Linked DNA regions of Homo sapiens: region 1 is linked to region 2. A link means that fine-mapping ties the variant in region 2 to the expression of a gene that starts in the linked region. Tissue or cell type: whole blood. Region 2 holds a variant in brackets; the other region holds the start of a gene. All regions are shown on one strand. Distances are between the middles of the regions.

What was found. PIP is the estimated chance that this variant, and not a neighbour inherited with it, causes the effect.
Region 1: SMAD3 starts here. The variant in region 2 is fine-mapped to the expression of SMAD3 in whole blood (TOPMed, PIP 0.96).

What each region holds. Positions count from the first base shown.
Region 1 is chr15:67,064,252-67,066,751 of GRCh38, forward strand. It overlaps SMAD3 (SMAD family member 3), which reads left to right and starts at 1,351. Exons shown (of 9, transcript NM_005902.4): 1 at 1,351-2,109. The coding sequence starts at 1,904. RefSeq lists enhancers at 1-369, 1,909-2,500 and silencers at 1,128-1,617, 1,788-1,947, 2,098-2,147, 2,398-2,457, 2,478-2,500.
Region 2 is chr15:67,011,088-67,013,587 of GRCh38, forward strand. All of the region lies in intron 2 of SMAD3-DT (SMAD3 divergent transcript), which reads right to left. Among named protein-coding and RNA genes, the nearest start is that of SMAD3-DT, 52 kb to the right of the region's middle. The variant A/G (reference allele first, on the strand shown) is at 1,508.

The sequences.
Region 1 (2,500 bases), 53 kb after region 2:
AGGAGCACAGCGCACTTCTGCAGCAGCAGCTGCGGATTGGCTTGTGGGAGGCGGTTCTCCGGAGCAAGGCAAGGGCCCCTGCCGCTTCTGGGCTGACTGTGGATTCCGCCACACCTCACAGGGCTTTGTAACTCCCCACCCACTTGAGGGTTCCAGATAACTTTTTTTTTTTAACAAAGCAGGGGTGGGGGTGGGAGATTCCTGCTGTTAAAAACAAACAAAGGGCTTAGACACCGGCTAGTCGGCTGCGGGAGGCAGCAAGAGAAAGGCCGAGGGGCCTGGAGTAGCTCCTGAAAACCGCCGAGGGCCCTGCGGGCAGACGCCCCTGAATTCTTTTGGTGGGGAGAAAAGCCGCGGAGCTCCCCAATGTGCCAATTGGTTTGTTGTTGTTTTGCTTTTTTTGAATACACAAACTCTCCGAAAACTCCTGTCTTGCCCCACTTTTTTGTGAGTTCATTGCTTTGGAAACAAAACTCTCTTCCATTTATTGGCAATTATCAAATTTCCGATCCTTCTCTATCAGGAGATCCAGCAACAAACACCCTGTTATGTAAATTTCTTTCAAAGATAAATTCGAAAGCCCCTCCATTCATTCCTTCAAGAACTCAACAGATGTCCTTGAGGCTCATTTTCTGCCGGGCACTCGGTTCACAAGGCTCAAGAGACCCCTGGCTCCAGCCATTGTCCAGGTTGTCACTGGTGTCCCCAGCTCTCCACTTCTGAGGACCCACTTCTCACCCCCTCCTCCTCCGCACACGTTCCCGAGGCTCTCGGCCGGTGTGATCTCACCGACTAGAGAATAAAAACAGCCCAGGGGCGCCGGCGCCGGCCAAGGGCCTTGACGGGGATCAGCAAGCGCGAGGCCAAGTGCGGGCCCCAACTTCCTGGGCCCGGGCCTTCCGCGCGCCCCCTCTCGGGCTCGGGTCCTCTCCAGGGTGCACTCGCGTCCGGACGACGCTTACTTGCTGCGAGTCCAACCCTCTCCGGCCCGCAACTCCAACCGAGCCGCCCGAGTGTGGACTCCGAGAGCGGACGCCACGGGCCGCGCTCAGCCCTCCCGCCCGAGGCCCCTCTCGCCGTGTTTCCCAGGACTTCCTCCCCGCGCCCGCCCGACTTCAGGTCGGGGCCGCGCAGGGTCCCGCGCGCTCCAGCCAGGACTGCCGCCGCCCGGGTCGCCCACGTGGGCGTGCTGGGCGCGGGGTGGTGGCCGGCCGGGCGCCCTCCCCGGAGCAGGGGGCGGGCAGGGCGCCCGCGGGAGGAGGTGGCGGGGCGCGGGGGAGGAGGCGGGGAGCCCCGGCGGCGAGGGGGCGGTGACAGCACTTGGAAAGGAGGCTGCACGCGGATTTGCATGAAACACAGACTGGGAGCGGGCGGGAGCGGGAGCGCGGCGCACGCCCCGGGCCGGCCCAGCCAGCGAGCGAGCGAGCGGCGAGCCGGGAGGAGGAGGGTGGCGGGGCGGTGAGGCCGCAGAGGCGGAGGGATCTGCGCATCAAAGCTAGCGAGGCGAGCGAAGTTTGGCCGGGGGTTGGACTTTCCTTCCCGGAGGCGGCACCCAAACAGCTACCCCGTGCGGAAACCCAAACTTCTGCTGCCACTTGGAGTCTCGCGGCCGCCGCCTCCGCCCCGCGTTCGGGGCCTTCCCGACCCTGCACTGCTGCCGTCCGCCCGCCCGGCCGCTCTTCTCTTCGCCGTGGGAGCCGCTCCGGGCGCAGGGCCGCGCGCCGAGCCCCGCAGGCTGCAGCGCCGCGGCCCGGCCCGGCGCCCCGGCAACTTCGCCGAGAGTTGAGGCGAAGTTTGGGCGACCGCGGCAGGCCCCGGCCGAGCTCCCCTCTGCGCCCCCGGCGTCCCGTCGAGCCCAGCCCCGCCGGGGGCGCTCCTCGCCGCCCGCGCGCCCTCCCCAGCCATGTCGTCCATCCTGCCTTTCACTCCCCCGATCGTGAAGCGCCTGCTGGGCTGGAAGAAGGGCGAGCAGAACGGGCAGGAGGAGAAATGGTGCGAGAAGGCGGTCAAGAGCCTGGTCAAGAAACTCAAGAAGACGGGGCAGCTGGACGAGCTGGAGAAGGCCATCACCACGCAGAACGTCAACACCAAGTGCATCACCATCCCCAGGTGGGGGCCCGCCCGGGGGGGACCCGGGGTCACGCCGGCCCAGCCCCCTGGCACTGCGGGGCCGACCCAGTGGGGCTGGAGATGGGAAGAGGGAGAGAGAGGGAGGGAGTGAGACTGTGTGGGTGCGTGTGTGTGAGAGTGGGAGAGCGCGGGCAGGAAGGGGGTGGGGGGACCCCAAACAAAACCATCTCTGATTTGCAAAGATCAGAGCCCGAGGCTTCCACGCGGCACTCTGGCTTCCACACCTCACATTCCCTTTCCACCTCCGGGAGGGGAGAGCGGGTTGCTGCGGGACTCGGCCGCCCCCACTCCGGGGAGCTGGGGCTGGAAGTTGAGGCCCGCTTTGTTCGGCTCCGCGGGCCGGAGCCCCTCCTCCGCCGCCGCCTCCCGC
Region 2 (2,500 bases):
GGTGGTGGGGAACAAGAGCTCCTGGGGGCCAAAAGCCTGTCACAGAATCGGCACCCAGTAAATATTTGTGGAATGAAGGGGTGAGTGGATACATGAAATGTTTCTGAACAGTAGAATTTGAGCTGCCATGGGAGGCAGAGGGGAAGGATAGCAATGCTATTTTTGCTATATTTTAAAATCCCCACTTCTCTTTAATGGAGAGACAAAGTAACCAGAACTCTTCAAATCACACTAGGTAAATTCAAGGCTGATATTTAACAGGTCGAGTGGCACAGATACTGACCAATCAGAATAGACCTGGAGAGCCGTGCTGGACTCAGCACAACCCCTTTGCTTGTGGATAATGGAAGCCCGGGGGTTCTGAAGGCTGGGGCTACAGAGGAGGGGACACTAAGGGCTTGAGGCAGCTGCTAGTCATCAACTGGTATGAAAACATTTCAGTACTCAAACAGCAAGCACAGCAGTGTCACACACATGATAATTAAACGTCAGCTCGGGTTAGGTAGCTGCATGAGAATCAAGAAACTTCTGCCATTTCCCCTCCCTAGGCCCCAATTTCTCGTCTACAAAACAATAAAACTTACTAGTCTTCAGGTTCACTCTAGTTCTGACTACCTGTGATTTTAATATAATAATAAGGAGAACAATTTATAAAAGCCAGCCTGGTATGGCAGAAAAGGCACATGCTCTGAAGCCGGTAGACCCAGTTCAAAGTCCAGCTGTTACTTACTGTGAGGCTCGGGTCCAAATCAATTAACTTCTCGGAACCTCCACTTTTTATTAATTCAACTAACATTTATGGAGCCCTTTTTATGTACCAGGTCCTAAGGACACTTTAGTGAACAAGACCCAGTCCCTTGCCATCATGGAACTCGCTGTTCTACCGAGGACTCTTTGGATGCAAGTGACAGAAACTGGCTCAAGCTAGCTTAGGCAAAACCAGAATGCATCATAAGAATGTAGCAAGCCTGGAGGGGCCCAGGAGGGAAAGCAACCAGACTTTGCTTAGAACCTGGACAGGAAGGCCACCAGCCTCTCTACCACCCTCAGCTACCTGCTGCATTACTCTCTTCTCCCCCTCAACCCCTCAGTTCTGATAAGCCTCAGTTAATATGACATCTCAATTCTAAACTCTCCACAAAGAATCCCAGCACTTGGCTGGGCGCAGTGGCTCATGTCTGTAAGCCCAGCACTTTGGGAGGCTGAGGTGGGTGGATCACCCGAAGTCAGGAGTTTGAGACGAGCCTGACCGACATGGCAAAACCCCATCTCTACTAAAAATACAAAAAGTAGCTGAGTGTGGTGGCTACTCCGCACCCGAGATCCTCCACACACACACTCTGCCTCCCGGGAATCTCTTGAACCCAGGAGGCAGAGGTTGCAGTGAGCCCAGATCGCACCACTGCACTCCAGCCTGGGTGACAGACTGAGACTTCATCTCAAAAAAAAAAAAAAAAAAAAAAAAGAATCCCAGCACTTTGGGAAACCAAGGCGGGTGGATCACTTG[A/G]GGTCAGGAGTTCAAGACTGGTCTGGCCAACATGGCAAAACCCTGTCTCTACTAAAAATATAAAAATTAGCAGGGCGTGGTGAGGCACTCCTGTAGGCCCAGCTACTAGGGAGGCTGAGGCCGAAGAATTGCTTGAACCCGGGAGGCAGGGGTTGCAGTGAGCCGAGATCACGCCACTGCACTCCAGCCTGGGTGACAGAGTGAGATTCCATCTCCATAAATAAATAAATTCTCCACAAAGAGAACCTGATTGGCCCAGCTTGAGCCACATGCCCACTCCTAATCTAATCACCTATGACCATAAGGCGGGACCACTAGGTACAAACGTGGCCTCAGGGACTCACCCATGTGATGGGGGAGGGGTCCAAATTCCCAAAAAAGGGAGCTTGTAGATCCTGGTGTCCACTTCACCACCTCATAGGGTGGATGTAAAGATGAAATGAAATTCCATGTAAAGTGACTGGCACATAGCCTGGCAGACATAGCTGGAGCACTGTGCCTCTGTGCCTTGCTAATAATTGGTGCTTGACTAAAACATGTGCTGAACAGGGGAACAATATTATTAACAATGATACCTTTCATGTATCCACCAACTTTATGTCCATTCCATTCGTTACTTCCTCTGTTGCCTGGATCTCGAGCCCCACCTTGCTGAATGGACTTAAAACAAGTTAGTTGGGCACATGTGGCTCCCAGGCTGGATGGCATCCACATGGTGGGTGCCTGATGTGCTGAATGGATGAATGAGTGAATGTTCTTCCACCCAGCCCTCAGTGCTCTGCTGAGGCAGGATGGGTGGCTGGAAAAATGGGGTCTTTGGAATTTGTCTCCTTTTCACCTAGATCTTTGTTAGATCTTTTTCCTCCTTTGTTTAGTAACCAAAGAACCGAGAACTCAGGAAGAGATCAAGGACTGGGTTCAAGTCCTCCCACTCCCCCCACCCCCCATCTAATTTGATGACTATCATTGAGATACTGACCACCCCTCTCTGGA